Linked DNA regions of Homo sapiens. The protein of the gene in region 2 purifies or fractionates together with the protein of the main gene of each other region. This does not show direct contact. Each region holds a gene or a part of one and is shown on either strand. Other genes may lie near its edges. The genes, in order: CPNE7, METTL2A, PCMT1 and PHGDH.

The links.
Region 1: the proteins of METTL2A (region 2) and CPNE7 purify together in Homo sapiens (affinity purification with mass spectrometry; 2 studies listed by BioGRID and IntAct, with this or other methods). This does not show direct contact.
Region 3: the proteins of METTL2A (region 2) and PCMT1 purify together in Homo sapiens (pull-down; one large-scale study listed by IntAct). This does not show direct contact.
Region 4: the proteins of METTL2A (region 2) and PHGDH purify together in Homo sapiens (pull-down; one large-scale study listed by IntAct). This does not show direct contact.

Annotation. Positions count from the first base shown.
Region 1 is NC_000016.10:89,589,086-89,593,925, reverse strand, and holds part of CPNE7 (copine-7), read right to left. Parts: intron 4,030-4,840; coding exon 3,975-4,029; intron 2,920-3,974; coding exon 2,868-2,919; intron 2,800-2,867; coding exon 2,666-2,799; intron 1,729-2,665; coding exon of another isoform or gene 1,726-1,728; exon of another isoform or gene 1-1,725. UniProt on the Homo sapiens protein: Calcium-dependent phospholipid-binding protein that may play a role in calcium-mediated intracellular processes.
Region 2 is NC_000017.11:62,440,024-62,444,863, reverse strand, and holds part of METTL2A (tRNA N(3)-cytidine methyltransferase METTL2A), read right to left. Parts: intron 4,248-4,840; coding exon 4,108-4,247; intron 28-4,107; coding exon 1-27.
Region 3 is NC_000006.12:149,786,527-149,791,366, reverse strand, and holds part of PCMT1 (protein-L-isoaspartate(D-aspartate) O-methyltransferase), read right to left. Parts: intron 1,414-4,840; coding exon 1,309-1,413; intron 1-1,308. UniProt on the Homo sapiens protein: Initiates the repair of damaged proteins by catalyzing methyl esterification of L-isoaspartyl and D-aspartyl residues produced by spontaneous isomerization and racemization of L-aspartyl and L-asparaginyl residues in aging peptides and proteins.
Region 4 is NC_000001.11:119,721,340-119,726,179, forward strand, and holds part of PHGDH (D-3-phosphoglycerate dehydrogenase), read left to right. Parts: intron 1-2,036; coding exon 2,037-2,102; intron 2,103-2,979; coding exon of another isoform or gene 2,980-3,110; exon of another isoform or gene 3,111-3,130; intron 3,131-3,445; coding exon of another isoform or gene 3,446-3,536; intron 3,537-4,840. UniProt on the Homo sapiens protein: Catalyzes the reversible oxidation of 3-phospho-D-glycerate to 3-phosphonooxypyruvate, the first step of the phosphorylated L-serine biosynthesis pathway.

The DNA.
Region 1 (4,840 bases), on a different chromosome or scaffold from region 2:
GACATTTACAGATGAAACCGTCTGAGACCCGCTTCCCAGCCACACAGGAACATAACAGCTGAACGCAATCCTCGACTCCGGACTGGCTCCTGGGCCAGGAACAATACTGCTTTGAAAGTTATGATTGTGCCAATGAATGAAATTGGAATATAGTCTATGTATTAGATAAAAGGATTGTATCTAAATTCAATTTCCTGAAATCTGTATTTGTGCTATGGTTATACAAGAGAATATCTTTGATCTTAGGAAATATACACTGAAATAGTAAGAGGTAGGCCGGGCGCGGTGGCTCACGCCTGTAATCCCAGCACTTTGGGAGGCCGAGGTGGGCGGATCACGAGGTCAGGAGATCGAGACCATCCTGGCTAACACAGTGAAACCCCGTCTCTACTAAAAATACAAAAAATTAGCCGGGCGTGGTGGCGGGCGCCTGTAGTCCCAGCTATTTGGGAGGCTGAGGCAGGAGAATGGCGTGAACCCGGGAGGCGGAGCTTGCAGTGAACCAAGATCGCGCCACTGCACTCCAGCCTGGGTGAAGAGCGAGACTCCATCTCAAAAAAAAAAAAATATTAAGAGGTAAAACCGTGATGTTGCAACGTGCTCTCGGACGGTTCACAAATGTGTGTGTGCAGTGCCAAGTTTTTTAAAAAGCATCAAAGTCTTTATCACGATACTATCTGTATAAATTAAAAATAGATGCAAACAGATATAGGGTTCCCATTTGGCTTGAAGATGTAAGTAGACGGGTGATGTTTGATCATCATGAATGTACCTCGTGCCTCTGAACTGGATACAATAAAATGGTTACAGGCCAGGTGCGGCGGCTCACACCTGTAATCCCATCCCAGCACTTTGGGAGGCTGAGGCAGGCAGATCACTTGAGGTCAGGAGTTTGAGACCAGCCTGGCCAAGACAGTGAAACCCCATCTCTACAAAAATATAAAAATTAGCCGGGTATGGTGGCGGGCGCCTGTACTCCCAGCTACTCAGGAGGCTGAGTCAGGAGAATGGCGTGAACCCGGGAGGCGGAGCTTGCAGTGAGCCGAGATCACGTCACTGCACTCCAGCCTGGGTGACAAGAGTAAAACTCCATCTCAAAAAAAAAAAAAAAAAAAGAAAAGAAAAAAATGGTTACAATGGTAAATTTTAAACTGTGCATATTTTATCACAATAAAAAAAATTTGGGCTGGGCGCGGTGGCTCACTCCTGTAATCCCAGCACTTTGGGAGGCCGAGGCGGGTGGATCACAAGGTCAGGAGTTTAAGACCAGCCTGGCCAAGACTGTGAAACCCCGTCTCTACTAAAAATACAAAAAATTAGCCGGGCGTGGTGGCGGGAGCCTGTAATCCCAGCTACTCGGGAGGCTGAGGCAGGAGAATTGCTTGAACTCGGAGGGTGGAGCTTGCAGTGAGCCGAGATTGCACCACTACAGCTTGGGTGACAGAGCAGGACTCTATCTCAAAAAAAAAAAAAAAAATTGAAAAAGAAAACATACAAATACAACAACTACACAGACGTGAAGCAGGAGCGCAATGTGTGAGCAGCTGTTGGCCTCACGGGTTGCAGGACCTCAGAGCTCTTGTAACTTTTTGGTGAGTTTAAAATTATTTTGGGCCGGGCGCGGCGGCTCACACCTGTAATCCCAGCACTTTGGGAGGCCGAGGCGGGTGGATCACGAGGTCAGGAGATCGAGACCATCCTCGCTAACACGGTGAAACCCCGTCTCTACTAAAAATACAAAAAAAAAAAATTAGCCGGGCATGATGGTGGGCGCCTGTAGTCCCAGCTACTTAGGAGGCTGAGGCAGGAGAATGGCGCGAACCTGGGAGGGGGAGGTTGCAGTGAGCGGAGATTGCGCCACTACACTTCCAGCCTGGGTGACAGAGCGAGACTCCGTCTCAAAAAAAAAAAACAACAAAAAAAAGAATGCCGGGCACGGTGGCTCACGCCTGTAATCCCAGCACTTTGGGAGGCCGAGGCGGGTGGATCATGAGGTCAGGAGTTTGAGACCAGCTTGGCCAACAGGGTGAAACCCCGTCTCTACTAAAAATACAAAAATTAGCCAGAAGTGGTGGCGGGCGCCTGTAGTCCCAGCTCCTTGGGAGGCTGAGGCAGGAGAATGGCGTGAACCCCGGGAAGCAGAGGTTGCAGTGAGCTGGGATCACATCACTGCACTCCAGCCTGGGTGACAGAGTGAGACTCTGTCTCACAAAAAACAAAAGAAAAGAAAAGAAAGCAGCAGGCTGGCTGTGGCCCCAGAGACACATACAGGGCCACACGGTGGCAGAGTAGAATCCAGTGCAGTTCTCGGCACCGTATCATTTGTGCAAAGGAAAGACACATGTAAACAAAATGACGATACACACACAGCCAAACAGTAGACATGTGCGCGGCCTTGTGGTGCCCAGAGGAAGAGGAGAGGGGCAGCCTCGCTGCAGCCATGGCCGTGACCGTGTGAGGCGATGGACAGCCCTGTGCCCGAGACACCTGCACCTTTGAGGGAGACGTAGTCAACCAGCTGGGCCCCCGCCCTCCTGAGCTCTGTCCTGCCTGGGGGCCTCTGCGCTGGCTGTTCCCTCTGCCAGGTGCCTCCCTGACGTCCACGCGCTGGTGCACACACAGCCGACCCCACACCAAGCATGCACCACACCCCCCGGGCACCTACAGAGGCTTTCCCGGTGCTCTCCTCGGCCGCCGCCACGCGTGCCACCTTGGAGATGATGGGCGCCACGTTGGTGGGGCCGTAGAGCTGGACCCTGGGCAGGCAGTTCTGGTAGGCCTCCACCACGCCCTGGATGCCTGTGGGGGGCAGGGGGTGAGCCCGGCCCCCCTGCACTCCCCTCCCCAGGCCTGCCTCGAGCTCCTACCTTCACACTCATCGTCCTCAGGGTTGAAATTGATGGCAAAGTCATGGGACACCTGGGTGGGAACAAGAGGGCTCAGTCAGCTGCTCGTTGCAACACACCCCACTGGCCCCATGTCCCTCGGTCAGCTGCTCCCCCCGTCCCCAGCCCCCATGTCCCCCAGTCAGCTGCTCCCCCCGTCCCCGCCCTCATGTCCCCCGCCTACTAAAGAGGGCTCGGTCAGCTGCTCCCCCCGTCCCCGGCCCCCATGTCCCCCAGTCAGCTGCTCCCCCCGTCCCCGGCCCCCATGTCCCCCAGTCAGCTGCTCCCCCGACCTGGCCCCCATGTCCCCCACCTACTGAGAGAGGTAGGCTTGGAGTTTCTAGGGGAAGCCAAACCCATGGGTGACCATGTTCTGCAGAGTCATGAAACAGAGAGGGAGGCAGACCTCCCTGGATCCAGCAGTGCCTGAGGCTTACATTAGCCAATAAATCCCCACACACCATTTTTTCTGCTGAAGCCAGTTGAAGTTTTTTGTTGTTTTCTTTTTTCTTTTTTAAAACAGAGTCTTGCTCTACAGGCCAGGCTGGACTGCAGTGGTGCGATCTCAGCTCAGTGCAACCTCTGCCTCCCGGGTTCAAGCAATTCTCTTGCTTCAGCCTCCCGAGTAGCTGGGATTACAAGCATGTGCCACCACGCCCAGCTAATTTTTGTATTTTTGGTAGAGATGGGGTTTCACCATGATGGCCAGGCTGGTCTGGAACTCCTGACCTCAGGTAATCGGCCCGCCTCGGCCTCCCAAAGTGCTGGGATTACAGGCGTGAGCCACCACGCCTGGCCGAAGCTAGCTGAATTGTTATGTGCAATAGAGGATTCCACACTAACGTCCTTCCCTATCTCCTGAAGGAACACGGAGTTGGCCTCCAGACACCCCTCAAGCTAACAAGTCCTAGGAGGCCAAAGGCCAGCCTCTCTGGCTAGAAGGCTGGGGTTCCCGCTTTGCACCCCAATCCCATCCTACAGTCTCCGGTTCCCAGCAGGCAGCCAGGGCTCCCTGGGCCAGGCCGTCCTCTGCCTGGGAGGGCACGAGAAGGGCACAGCTCTGAGGTCTCAGGTTCTGGGCTCTCCTACCTCATACTTGGGAGGGATCCGGGCTCCAAACCCCAAAGCGGAAAACCTCTTGTCACTGGAAGAGAGGCAGGAGGTCACCAGGAGGCCCTGACCTCTTGTGGCTGCAACAGGGGCCACTTCTAGGGAGACATGACTGGCGCCCAAAAGACTGGGGGTGCCCAGGCCTGGTACCACGGCAGTAAGCACCTGCCAGAGGTGGGGAACCGAGGCTCAGGGCAGCAGAGGCACAGGCCTGTGTGCAAGGGGACACGGTCCTGCCGCCCGCGAGCCTGCCTCCCAACTCCACGTTTGTGTACATGCTGTCCCCCTGCAGACGCCTCCCCGGGGGCTCTCAGACCACGGGAGGGGTCCTGTGGGGCCAAGGAACCCACTGTGGCCCTCACCAACCCAGAAAGAGAGGTCTGTAGGGTAGGGAGCTCAGGGCATCCTCTCCCAAGCCCCAGGCCAGGGGTCTGTGTTGTGGTAAGAAGCTCAGAGCACAGGGTTTTGTGCCGGGCCCTCCCTGGTAAAGCATACGCGGGTGAGCCCCAAGCCTCTGTGACTTCGGTTTGCTATTCTGGCAAAGCGGGACACAGACGTCCCCCCAGGACCATGTGCAGAGTCTATGCGGCAGCCTCCAGTAGGGCTACCCAGCCCTTCCTCGCAGAGTCTCTTTTTTTTGAGACGGAGTCTTGCTCTGTCACCCAGGCTTGAGTACAAAGGTGTGATCTTGACTCACTGTAACCTCCGCCTCCCGGGTTCCAGTGATTCTCCTGCCTCAGCCTCCTGAGTAGCTGGGATTACAGGCATCTGCCACCACGCCCAGCTAATTTTTGTATTTTCAGTAGAGATGGGGTTTCACCATGTTGGCCAGGCTGGTCTCAAAC
Region 2 (4,840 bases):
CTCAGCCTGTTGATAGCCTTCTGCATCCTGTGGAGCAGCAGGGAATGACGGTCAATCAGGTCTCCTTAAAGACGGGGTTCTCTTTCCCTGTAGCATATCCCAAAAAGCCAGTGGACTTCCTCAACTGACACACCAAGTCTGAGATCTAAGCTCCTCTACTCTTGCTTCAGTTAGAACTGAAGGACATTAGCTGCCTGCTCACAGCTGTGGCCTCGATCCACTGCCTTCAGCCTGAAGGGGCCCGAGGACAGCCCGCTTCTGCCGTAAGAAAGTTCCCTGCTCCTGGCCGGGTGCGGTGGCTCATGCTTGTAATACCAGCACTTTGGGAGGCTGAGGCAGGTGGATCACATGAGGTCAGGAGTTTGAGACCAGCCTGGCCAAAATGGTTAAACCCCATCTCTACTAAAAATACAAAAAGTAGCCAGGTGTGGTGGCGTGTGCCTGTAATCCCAGACACTCAGGAGGCTGAGGCAGGAGAATTTCTGGAACCTGGGAGGTGGAGGTTGCAGTGAGCCAAGATTGCACCACTGCCCTCCGGCCTGGGCCGCAGAGTAACTGAGACTTTGTCTCCAAAAAACAAACAAACAAACAAAAGTTCTCTGCTCTCTATCTGGCTCACTTCCCCACTGTCCTAGATAGCCATCTTTGCCCTGTGCGCCTGTGGCTGAGCTGAATCCTGAGCATCCAGTGGGTTCTGCTAGGTGACTTATCTGCCTGCATCATTAGACCTGAGCTCTTTCAATGTAGGGGCTGTATCTTTCTGTTTGTTAAATGAAGACTTGTCCTCAAGAACTTACAATACAATCAGTATGCAAATGAGTATAACAGACAGAGGGTTTTACACTTAGGTCTGTGTTTTCCATATGCAGTGTTCTTCAAAAGTCTTGGTGCAGGTTGAAGCTTTCATAACTTCAGAAGTCTAAATGCTACAAACTTCACCAAAAAAATTTCAAAGTCTATTTAAATTTTGCATAATGAATGTTTCCCTCTTAAAAAAAACCAAAAAACAAAAAAACGGCCAAGGCAGGCAGATCACCTGAGGTCAGGAGTTCGAGACCAGCCTGGCCAACATGGTGAAACCCTGTCTCTACTAAAAATACAAAAAAATTAGCCAGGGATGGTGGCAGGCACCTGTAATCCTAGCTACTTGGGAGGCTGAGGCAGGAGAATCGCTTGAACCTGGGAGGCGGAGATTGCAGTGAGCCAAGACCATAGCACTGCACTCCAGCCTGGGCAACAAGAGTGAAACTCCATCTCAGAAAACAAACAAACAAACAAAAAACAGCTGGGGTCCTGCTATGCTATGTTGCCTCGGCTGGACTCTTGGGCTCAAGTGATCCTCCTGCCTCAGTCTCTAGGTAGCTGGGACTAAAAGTGTGTGCCACTGTGTCTGGCTTGAATTTTAAATTTTAATAATTTGTTTTAGTCCATGTCAATTTTTAAAAAGTTTGTAGCATTGAAACTTCTAAGGTCATAGGTTTTTTTTGAGACAGGGTCTCACTCTGTCACCCAGGCTGCAGTGCAGTGGTGTGATCGTAGCTCACTTCACTGCAGCCTCAAACTCCTGGGCTTAAGCCATACTCCTGCCTCAGCCTTCTGAGTAGCTGGGACTACAGATATGCACCTGGCTAAATTTTTTTATTTTTATTTTTAGTAGAGATAACGGTCCTGCTTTGTTGCCCAAGCTGGTCTTGAGCTCCTGGCTTCAAGCACTCCTCCCACCTCAGCCTCCCAAAGTGGTGGGATTATAGGCGTGAGCCACTGTGCCTGGTCAACCTCTGCAATTATTAAAGTTTAAAACCATGGTAGGCCTTTTGGGTTATCCTGCATATGCCTTTATTTCACACTCATCCTCTCAGGTTGGATGACTTCAGTACCCTTCTAGAGGAAGTGTGGCCTTCTAGAGGAAGGTCAATCACCCAAAGCTCCTATCCTGTGCAGCCAGTGAGGGGTCCTTGGACTCTGGGAGATAAACCAGGATCTCAATCACTGGTCCCTGCAGTCTCTAGTCATGTAATCTGGCTTCCTAACACCAGCTTACCTTGACCTTTAACACTAACTTACTTAATCATCCTTTGCAGGACTCTGATGACACAGAATGAGGAGATGTTTGAAGTCTCTAATCTCATGATTTCATGGGTATAGTTTACCCTAACATGTGCCAACCCCCAGCCTGTCCAGACTCACTGCACTCTGGCAGTGCCAAGGGCTTCCATGGAATTAGTCAATGGTATCTGAATCTCTGAGCCACCATCTGACTCTGCTTCCTTGAGAAGGTAGTTTTGGTCAGGTTGCAGTGGCTCATGCCTGTAATCCCAGCACTTTGGGATGCCGAGGTGGGTGGATAACTTGAGGTAAGGAGTTCAAGACCAGCCTGGCCAACATAGTGAAACCCCGTCTCTACTAAAAATACAAAAAATATTAGCCAGGTGTGGTGGTGCTTGTCTGTAATCCCAGCTGCTCGGGAGGCTGAGGCAGGAGAATCGCTTTAACCTTGGAGGCAGAGGTTGCAGTGAACTGAAATCTCACCACTGCACTCCAGCCTGGGCAACAGAGTGAGACTCCATCTCAGAAAAAAAAAAGAGAAGGTAGTGTCACAGGACCACTGGTTACCTATGCATATGAAGTTTTAATGGTGTATTTTAGGATATAGCATTTGACTTTCCTTTAATCTGAATCTGATTTTATAGAATTCTGTATCACACTTTCCTAAAACACTGTAAGCATCAGAGAACACCTTAGTTAAGGTTCAATGTAAATTTCATGTTGCTAATAAGGTTGTTTTATTTAAAGCATTTAAAAGGCCAATAGGCTGGGCGTGGTGGCTCACGCCTGTAATTCCAGCACTTTGGGAGGCCGTGGCGGGCGGATCATGAGGTCATGAGGTCAGGAGTTTGAGACCAGCCTGGCCAACATGGTGAAACACCATCTCTACTAAAAAAAAAAAATACAAAAATTAGCCAGGCATGGTGGCGTACACCTGTAATCCCAGCTGCTTGGGAGGCTGAGGCAGGAGAATTGGTTGAACCCGGGAGGTGGAGGTTGCAGTGAGCCAAGATCTCATCACTGCACCCCAGCCGGGGCAACAGAGCAAGACTCCGTCTTCAAAAAAAAAAAAAAGGCCAGCATAGTGGCTCATGCCTGTAATCCCAGCATTTTGCAAGGTTGAGGCAAGCAGATTACAAGGTCAGGAGTTTAAGACCAGCCTGGCCAACATGGTGAAACCCCGCATCTACTAAAAATACAAAAATTAGCTGGGCATGGTAGCAGGTGCCTGTAATCCCAGCTACTCGGGAGGTTGAGGCAGGAGAATTGTGTGAACCGGGGAGGTGGAGGTTGCAATGAGCCTAGATCACGCCATTGCATTCCAGCCCAGGCGACAGGGCAAGACTCCATCTCAAAAAAATAAAATAAAATAAAATAAAAATCCAATAATGAGACATTACCTAAGAGCTGTGACACCCACAGTTCACAGTTCTAAAACGGCATGTGATGAGACTATCAATAGGAATTTCCCCACATACTCATTAGAGACTGATTTCCCATTCTTTCCCAATGTTGAGCCACAACAAGGAAATGAAGAACCAACTACTGCAGAAGTTTCGAGGCCAGAACAGAAGTTGGACATCAAGACAAATTTAGGAAAATGGCTGAGATGCTCACATCACTACAAATGGTGTGGCTTCTTTGTGTCTATCAGAACATAAACAAAACTCTTTTTACTTTGAGCCCAACTCTAATATCAAGGTCCCTCGCCAGGCTGGGCATGGTGGCTCACACCTATAATCCCAGCACTTTGGGAGGCCAAGGTGGGAGGATCGCTTGAGCCCAGGAATTCAAGACCAGTCTGGGCAACATGGCAAAACCCCATCTCTGCTAAAAACACAAAAATTGGCCAGGACTGGTGGCACGTGCCTGTGGTCCCACCTACTTGGGAAGCTGAGGAGGGAGGATCATTTAAGCCCAAGAGGTTAAGGCTGCAGTGAGCCATGATCGTGCCACTGCACTCCAGCCTGGGCTGACAGAGCAAGAACCTATTTTAAAAAAAAAGGTCCCTCACCAAAGCTTCCTTTTTGTGACACTACCAGCCAAGGGACCCAAACTTACTTGTCTGGAACAATTGCTGAAAGAACAAATATGAGAATGATAATATCAAGACTGCCCTTGGGCACTGGGTAACTCTTCTCTTCATCACACAGGTCGTGAACAAAGGCAAAACACCGAGAAGGATCATATTCTGAATTTGTCTGCAGACAGATGGAAGACACAGGTAAGTTAGAAAATATTAACATAGCCTAAAGAAAAGATTATCTTGTTTTAAATTTTAAATGTAACTGTTGCTACTTCACAAAGAGGGATATATTTCTTTTTTCTTTTTTTTCTTGAGGCAAAATCTCCCCATGTTGCCCAGGCTGGCCTCAAACTCTTGGGTTCACGCGATAGGATCACTTGCCTCACCCTCCAGAGTAGGGGATATATTTCTAATCATTATATAGATTGGTGAAAAAGTAATTGCGGTTTTTGCTATTGAAAGTAATGGCAAGGATGTGGAGACTCATGCCTGTAATCCCAGCACTTTGGGAGGCCAAGGCGGGAGGATCACCTAAGATCAGGAGTTCGAGGCCAGCCTGACCAACATGGAGAAACCCCATCTCTACTAAAAATACAAAATTAGCTGGGTGTGGTGGCACATGCCTATAATCCCAGCTACTCGGGAGGCTGAGGCAGGAGAATCGCTTGAACCCAGGAGGCAGAGGTTGCAGTGAGCCGAGATTGCACCATTGCACTCCAGCCTGGGCAACAAGAGTGAAACTCCATCTAAAAAAAAGAAAAAAAAAAA
Region 3 (4,840 bases), on a different chromosome or scaffold from region 2:
AGACTCTGATGAGAAAAGGCAGAAGTATAACAAGGCATTATTTTTCTAAGAGCACTTTTTCTAATGCAGAAGTTTTACCTTCATCCTGGTAAATCTGCAGGAATGTTTAGAAACCAGGCTCATTCTGGGCAGGGACAGTGGAGAGGGTGCTGGGAAATGAGTCCCCTGGGAGACGGGGCCCAGCTACGATGCTAAATATCTCAGGCTCCTGAGTGACTGGATTTCCCTGGGACCCTCAGACATGTCCCAGGGCCCGGTGGGGAAACTGAGGCCTGTACAAGGAAGTAGAATTCTGAGTTGTCGGGGCTAAGCCTGACCCCCTCTCCATGCTAAGCCCACCCCCCACACTGTGCCTCAGTAGGTTTTTGTTGTTGTTGTTGTTGCCCAGGCTGGAGTGCAGTGGTGCAATCAAGGCTTACTGCACCTCCACCTCCTGGGCTCAAGGGATTTTCCTGCCTCAGCCTCCTGAATAGCTGGGACTGCAGGTGCTCCACCATGCCTGGCTAATTTTTCTATTTTTAGTAGAGATGGGGTTTCACCACGTTGGCCAGGCTGGTCTCGAACTCCTGGCCTCATGTGATCTGCCTGCCTAAGCCTCCCAAAGTGCTGGGATTATAGGTGTGAGCCACCGCGTCTGGTCCCTCAGTAGGTTTTAAGGAGCCTCCAGCCTTCCTTCTCCCCTTCTGGGCCTGACCAGCTATACTGCTCTGTCTCCCCCAGCCACATGCCCCACCAAGTACTGTAGAGAGTCCCCTACCCAGGGTCCCTGCACCATGAGATAAGGTGAAATACCAACTGTGGACCAAATGCAATAAAACCTCTGTTTTTAAGAAGAAAAAAAAAAAAAAAAGAAAAGAAAACCAGGCTTATTCTATTCTTTTCTGCCAAATCAGAACTTGGAAGAAGGTAGTTTGGGAGCTACTGGCCACCATCTTGTGATTACAAGGGTAGAGCTTACCGGATAATGACACCAACATGTGGAGGAAAGTAAAGCCAAATCAAGAAACAGAGAGAACCCTATCGTCAATAACAACATCTGCTCTTCTAAATCCAGCCACACAACAGACCGTATACACCCCTAGACTTTTCTGTTATATGAACTAAATAAACTCCCTTTTAGCTCTGCCAGTTTGGGTTGCATGTTCTGTCACTTGCAACAACAACAAAATCCTAAGTGATGCTCATTCCAACTGCTATCCTAATAGAATTAACAAACAAATAAACATGAAAACCACTAGTTAAAAAAACATACAGCCAAATCATATAATATTCTTCTGTTGGGGCCAGAGTGAGAAATAAAACTCTTACCATACGTGCAAAACATGCAGTAAGGATTCCACTTCCAGATCCTACATCAAGAGCTTTAGCTCCTTCATGCAACTGATCAAATAGAAGTTCTAGCGCATATGCATGCTGCCAAAAGAAAACAAAATATTCATTAAGACTAAAGTACACACATCATGGTATATAAATAAAGTTGCCAACTTTCTACCAATTTTTCTACTATTGTCATCTACCAAGATAACCAAGTTATCTTGGCTATCTGCCCAGGTATTACTTAAGTAAACTGTTTGATTAGAATTCTTACATTCAGATCATGTGTTTCAGTAATTTTAGACCTCCAGTGTGTGAATTTTTAACTTTTAATTAATTCAGTAAAAAAATTAAAAGATTTATAAGTGAAAAGTCTCCACCCTACTCCCATTTCCAACCATCCAGGTTTCACTCTGTAAAGGTAACCAATATTACTAGTTTCTTGTGACTCCTTCCAAAAAGGAAGGAATAGATTCTTTGCATATATAAGCAAATACAAAAATACAAAGGCTAATTTTGTATTTTTAATAGAGATGAGGTTTCTCCATGTTGGTCAGGCTGGTCTCGAACTCTCGACCTCAGGTGATCCGCCCACCTCGGCCTCCCAAAGTGCTGGGATGACATACATAAGCCACCACACCCAGCCAGTATTCTCATTATTAAAAATAATCAGATCAGGCTGGGCGTGGTGGCTCAGGCCTGACATTCCAGCACTTTGGGAGGCTGAGGCAGGTAGATCACGAGGTCAGGAGTTCAAGACCAGTCTGGCTAAGATGGTGAAACTCCATCTCTACTAAAAATACAAGAAAATTAGCTGGGCATGGTGGCAGCCACCTGTAATCCCAGCTACTCGGGAGGCTGAGGCAGAGAACTGCTTGAACCCGGGACGGGGAGATTGCAGTGATCCGAGATCATGCCACTGCACTCCAGCCTGGGCTGTAACAGAGCGAGACTCCATCTCAAAAAAAAAAAAAAAAAAAAAAAAATCAGATCCAATAGCAGTAAACACATTTACTACCAGATCTTGGTTGATAAAAATACCCATCCATTAATCTATAGTGATAAATTAATACATCATTCTATACATATATAAATGAAAAATAGGGAAAACCGTTCCCAACAAATATATAGATACATAATGAATGCACATAGAAAAAATTAAGAAAATCAGCCTTTGGGCAGCCATCTCAATAATAACTGATTGATTCAGGTAAAAATCATAAATGGAAGCTAAAACTAGTGGACTAACATTTGAAAAATAAACAGGATATTTACATAATCTCAAAGGGTTTGCCCCAGATAATTATTAATCACAAAAGGAAAAATAGTAATTTTACAATGGAGTTCAGAAAAAAGTTCTCCAGTGGAAAAACTGGGTCAACACTACCTTAATCAGATGATCAAAGTTAACACCACAATTATGGGACACACTGACATCAAATGCCTCTGCTAAGATACTTCATTTCTGGGATATGCCAGGCAAAAATGCATAACCTATATTGAATTATGAGGAAACATCAAACAAACCCAAATTGAGGGACATTATACAAAATAAATGGCCCATATTCGTAAAAATTTTCAAGGTTTTCAAGGTCATAAAAGAATAAGGAACCATTTCTCAGTCATTCTTTAAAGGAAACTAAAAAGACATGACAATCAAATAAAACTCACAATCTACTATTTTCTTTTCCTATAAGGAATATTATCAGAATAATTGATGAAATCTGAATAAGGTCTATAAATTGGCTAATAGTGTTATATCAATGCTGACTTCCAGATTTCAAAAATTGTACTATGGGTATGTAAGAGAATGTCCTTATTTTTAAAGGTAAAGAGCATTGGCCGGGCACAGTGGCTCACACCTGTAATCCCAGCACTTTGGGAGGCCGAGGCGGATCACGAGGTCAGGAGATCGAGACCATCCTGGCTAACACAGTAAAACCCCATCTCTACTAAAAATACAAAAAATTAGCTGGGCGTGGTGGTGGGCGCCTGTAGTCCCAGTTACTTGGGAGGCTGAGGCAGGACAATGGCGTGAACCCGAGAGGCGGAGCTTGCAGTGAGCTGAGAACGTGCCACTGCACCACTGCACCCCAGCCTGGGCGACAGAGCAAGACTCCATCTCAAAAAAAGTTAAAGGTAAAGAGCATTATGCCTGTAATTTACCCTCAAAGAGCTCAGAAAAACGGAAATATAATACACACACATACACACACACACACACACACAGAGGAGAGAGGGGATAAAGGGAGAGAGAATAAATGATAAAGCAAATGGTGAGATTTGCTTTACCAATGGTAAGACTGTGTGGACAAAAGTACACAGGAACTGTACTATCTGCATAATATTTCTGTAAGTCAGAAATTATGTCAAAGATTTAAAAACATTTGGGCCGGGCATGGTGGCTCACACCTGTAATCCCAGCACTTTGAGAGGCCGAGGCGGGCAGATGACCTAAGGTCAGGAGTTCAAGACCAGCCTGCCCAACATGATGAAACCCTGTCTCTGCTAAAAATACAAAAAATTAGCCGGGCGTGGTGGCGGCTGTAATCCCAGCTACTGGGAAGCTGAAGCAGGAGAATCGCTTGAACCCGGGAGGTGGATGTTGCAGTGAGCCAAGATGGCGCCACTGCACTCCAGCCTGGGTGACAGAGCGAGATTCCGTCTCAAAAAAAAAAAAAAATTATAACTATTTTATCAATGAAAACAGCCAGCTCCCGCTCCCGCTCCCTCTCCCTCTCCCTCTCCCCACGGTCTCCCTCTACCCACGGTCTCCCTCTCTTTCCACGGTCTCCCTCTGATGCCGAGCCGAAGCTGGACTGTACTGCCGCCATCTCAACTCACTGCAATCTCCCTGCCTGATTCTCCTGCCTCAGCCTGCCGAGTGCCTGCGATTGCAGGCGCGCGCCACCACACCTGACTGGTTTTCGTATTTTTTTGGTGGAGACGGGGTTTCGCTGTGTTGGCCGGGCTGGTCTCCAGCTCCTAACCGGAGTGATCCACCAGCCTCGGCCTCCCGAGGTGCCAGGATTGCAGACAGAGTCTCGCTCACTCAGTGCTCAATGGTGCCCAGGCTGGAGTGCAGTGGCGTGATCTCGGCTAGCTACAACCTCTACCTCCCAGCCGCCTGCCTTGGCCTCCCAAAGTGCCGAGATTGCAGCCTCTGCCCGGCCGCCACCCCGTCTGGGATATGAGGAGCGTCTCTGCCCAGCCGCCATCCCATCTAGGAAGTGAGGAGCGCCTCTTTCCGGCCACCATCCCATCTAGGAAGTGAGGAGCGTCTCTGCTCAGCCGCCCATCGTCTGAGATGTGGGGAGCGCCTCTGCCCCGCCGCCCCGTCTGGGATGTGAGGAGCGCCTCTGCCCGGCCGCGACCCCGTCTGGGAGGTGAGGAGCGTCTCTGCCCGGCCGCGACCCCGTCTGGGAGGTGAGGAGCGTCTCTGCCCGGCCGCCCCATCTGAGAAGTGAGGAGACCCTCTGCCTGGCAACCGCCCCGTCTGAGAAGTGAGGAGCCCCTCCGCCCGGCA
Region 4 (4,840 bases), on a different chromosome or scaffold from region 2:
GGGCGGTTTGGGGGTAGGGGGGTGAGTGCGGAGACTGACCACACCTAGGGAGAAAAAACTCACTTGAGAGAAAGCTGAGTCCATTGGAAGGGCTTCCAGGAGGATGCCTGGTCTAGGGCCTGCATGGTCAACACACACAGCATAGTGGTTTCAAGGTTTTTGGAAGGCAGCTATGCTCACCACTATATCACCAATGCCATCAGGGTGTTACACAGTTTTTGAAATTGAGAGTCCCTGCATAATCTCAAAATGTTTCACGAGCCCACCCCATGCGCAGTTGCTTGCACCTCTGTGACCTGGTTCAGGAATCGGAAGGTCAGTGAGTTCATCTGCATTTCCTGCTCCCACCCAGCCCCCTCTGCCTCTATTAATGCTGTTTGTGGCAGGTTTTTGTCAGCTCTACTTTACTGTGCTTGTACAGAGGCACAACCTTTGCTAGCAGACTAATGACTAGAATCCTTGCCCTCCCCACTTCCCTGCCACCTTCTGGAACTAAGACACTAGTTTCTCTTTCAGTGCTCTAGGGCAAGAGGAGAAGGGTCCCATTTAAAGCTGTTTCTGCAGAAACACAGGGGCAGAGGTCATCAGCACGCCAGTGCTGTACTGTACCCGTTCTGTCACTTAGATGGTATGGCAAGGCCATCCCCAGGCCTCTTTGTTCTTAAGACTTTTCTCTTCCCTTGGGGACTTCATTGTCCTTAAGACCTTTCCCCTCCCCTGCACTGCACTTCCCCCTGTAGGGTAGAGGTTAATTGGTCACCTGACTGAAGTCAATATTCAACAGCAGAAATGTTAAACGATAACCCATCCCACATTCTTGCCTTGGACCCAGAGGCAGCCAGGCCCCAATCTCTGCACCTCTACTTGCGCCCCCATACAGCCTGTTTGCTGTGGGAGGATGAGAAGCCAGGTGGTTTTGCAGGCAGACAGACTCTGAGAGTCCGTTTATCTTATACAGGATCTCTTGACTTTTTCTTCTTGTAACCTTATTAACCTTCATTCCAGAGATGAAAAAGACAGACCCAGTAGGGGAATAATCAGGGTGAACACGTATATGAAATTCTTTCAAAAACCTAAAAAGCATTTAAGAAAAGAAAAATAGTTTTGTGGGTTGCCACCTCTATTTTTTTGTTTATAAAATGGGAAGGGTCTGGATTGCCCTGTGACTTAGGGTGTGAGGAGGCTTTCTCAGTTCAGAACTTGTTGAGAGATAGGAAGAGTAGTCAGACAGGTGGAGATTACTAATAAAAGCTAGGTTGGGGCTGCGTGTGGGGGCTCACACCTGTAATCCCAGCACTTTGGAAGGCCAAGGTGGGAGGATCACTTGGGCCCAGGAGTTTGAGACCAGCCTGGGCAACAAAGTGAGACCCCCATCTCTACAAAAATACAAAAAAAAAAAAAGAAGGAAAGAAAAGCCAGGTATGTTGGCACCAGCCTGTAGTCTCAGCTACTGAGAAGGTTGAGCTGGAAGGATTGCTTGAACCCTGGGAAGTCAAGGCTGCAGTGAGCTGTGATCATGCCAGTACACTCCAGCCTGGGTGACAGAGCGAGGCCTTGTCAAAAAAAAAAAAAAAAAGCCAGGTTGGGTAACTTGATGAAGATATGTAGGCATTGGACTGAGCCCTGAATTCGAGAGACTCTGACCTTGGTAAGATCAATGGTAGGAGCAGCAGGGAATTTGTGCTTTCTGGAGGCAGGTAGATCCTGAAATAGGAGAAAGAAAAGGGCTGAACCACACACAAATCTGATCATGTGAGACACTTCTCTGCCTTGGGAGGAGTGTTTGGATAGAGAGAAGCCAGATATGTTTCTCTAATGGAGGTCCCTCTGCAGGGAAACATAAAGCCAGGGGAAGGGGGTTTCTTTCCAGCCCTTGGCTTAGGGCGAGAGTACATCAGAGAACTCTGGACAGTGGCGTGGTCAGTTCATGGAGCAGGAGTGAGAGAACACAGCCTGCACTCAAGGCTTTCTCTTGGGGAAGGAGTGGGAATACTGGGTCTGTGCCCATTGATGTCCCCCTTTTCTTTGATCTTTAGCACCCCCAATGGGAACAGCCTCAGTGCCGCAGAACTCACTTGTGGAATGATCATGTGCCTGGCCAGGTAAGTCCCTGACTTCTCAGCAAAGCTAGTCTCTCCGATATGCCAATTATTACCACTTGCCAAGCAAATGGACCCAGAAAAACTTAGAAACATTTCGTCTCAGCGACTTGCAGACTGCTAAGAAGGCGACATGCAGACTGCAAAGAACCTTTAAGGCCATCAGGTCCTCTATTCAACATTCATTACACAGGTTCCCTAGTGCACAAAGGTGCACTTCTCTTTACTCATGTTCTATTCTCCATGCTGCAGACAATCTGCCTTCTCTAGCCTCCAACTCTTGCAAATGTTCTCCATACCCTGCTGCCTGGAGATAACAAGGAAGGATGTTCCAGGCAGCAGGGTATGGACAGTGTCTAGGTACCCTCTGCTTACTTTTCAAGATTAAGCTTCAGTATTAATTTATCCAAGAAGCTCTCTGGCTTTTCCAGCTAGGCTATGTCCCTCACTGATTCCCCTGGCCCTCAGGGCTTATCTCTGTCACTGCCCTTACAAATCTGTATTGTAATAGAATGGAGTAAGAACCTGCTTCAGGGTCCTTGTGTGTTCTGTGGGTTCATAACACAATGGAACTCAAATGGGCAAGACTCTTGCTCTTCTAGCAGGAGTTCCAGGCCTCTTGAGTGGATGGGGCAGCCTAGAAATCAAATGGTTGTGGCACAGAATGTGCTTGAGTCTCAGTGTGTTGGTTAGTAATTTGGCAAAACTGATTGCATGGAGCACTTCTGTTGAACAGGCAATTCAAGCATTTATGTGGTCAAGGGGAAGAACAAGGCTCCCAATAAACAGGGTAGGAAGTTGTTCTAGGTCCCTTTGAAGCTCCATGGATTCCCTAAACCAGCGGACCTAGGCATCAAGGACTCCTTGTTTCTCTACTCAGGCCTGAAACCTTCCGGGACCAAGAAATTACTTTTCCCATGGCGAGACCTGCTTTCCCTCCTGCTGGAGGAGGATCTGGGGGAATTTACCTCTGCTCTAACTCCTCCCTGCAGTTTCCATCTGAGCTCTCTGGTATTCACTGATATTCACTGGTAGGTGAAAGGAGGCAGTGGGGGGAAAGGAGAAACAGGGATAGCTTACACAGCAGTAGGGTCTCAGCCTAGAAGGGGCCCCCAGGCTGGCAGCCGGGTTCTCCCAGAACATCTAGGCTGAGTGTCTCTCCCCCTGGAGAAGTACAGAAGCCTGGCACCCTGGTTTCACTTCAGCTATTACCTTCAGGGATTTTTTTTTTTTTTTTTGAGTAAGGGAAAAGATCTCAATGTGGCTTTCTGATTAATTACCTCACTTTTTTTCTGGAGGTGGAAGGAAAGGATTGGGAGCCAGCAATACTTTCCCTCCTTTTCCAGGACCAGCTTTGTTTAAAGGAATCGGTGAAATGCTGTGGTTTAAAAGAAGCTCCCCATTGTCAACTGCTCACCATGACCTCACTCATCAAAGGTGCATCAAAACTAGGAAACACGCACACCCTATTGGGAAGGAATGCGTTCGTTTCATCAGACTGTTCCTAGCAGGGAGGACGGTAGGAGAGTGTGGGTGCCTATATGTAGACTCTACAGGATTGGGCAATGTGGGTGGAGAGCAGGCGTGGCTGGGCCTCACAGTAGGGACTTTGAGCAGATGGCGGGGGCTCCTGAGGTGCAGAAGAACAGCACACAGAAAGGAAGGAAGGAGAGAATCAACAAATGTAGGTTTCACCATTTTTGCCTGCTTTACCATCTCCTCCTCTAGTAAGTCAGGCCAGCAACCATTTAATTATTGTGAGGACCCTCGCCCACATTAGAGTCCTCTCCAGTCTGGCCTGATGAGGATTCCAAAGCATTGAAACCTGGAGAGGCTCCATGATCAGCTGGGAGCAGCAGCCAGAGAAAAGGGTTAGGGATTTCTTGTGTTCTGTGGTGCCGCACGCATACATCTTAGATAGCACTGTGGAGTCTGGTGGGAAGAAAATAGGATGTGAGGGAGAGGAGAGAGGGGCCAGGTGGGGCTCTGTCTCACTAGGTCAAAGGCATTTTATCAGGCAAGCTTTCCCAAGAAGTGAACAGTTCCTCAAGGCAAGTCCCTGTCCTTATTACCTGCCTGATGGGTCAGAGCAGTGAGGTGAATGCAGCTTGTCCCCCATGTGGCTTGGTACTGAAGTTCTTCTGAGTTTACCCATAAGATCGTGCGCCTCTGTGATGGAGGACAGATTCCACCTTCAGCCTTACCCTCAGATGGAGATCAATGTCCTAGTGATGTGTAGAGATGAGAGAATGTTTTTGTGTTAGAAGTTAGTGAAGTGAAAGCACGGAAGTAGCAGCTTGAGATTTCTCTTTTTGCACGCTCGCTCACTCTGAGGTTTTTGGCATCAGGTTAAAGGCCTACATTTAAGTACTCAGGAGGCTGGCCGTGCTGGGGTTGACTTTGCTGGCTTTGAATCTGTTCAAGTGCCTCCAGTTGGGTGATCTGGGGAGAACTGTTTAACCTCCAGTGCCTCCCTCCGTGCAGCTGTGAATGTTAGAGGAGTTAATGTGTGTCTAAACATTTCTTTTAGGATGTCTAAAATAAAGTGCTCCTTAAACATTGTTTCTCAAATCTTCCTTTTTTGCCTCCAGAGATGTGTTGATGACCCATGCCCACAGGACATATATCGCCCTTTGACCTCTAATGTTGCCCTAATTGCCACTTCCTCTGTCTCCTCCAGAAAACACAGATGTAGACTCAGACTTCCATCTGGACTAATAGGAGGAGACAGGCTGTGAAGA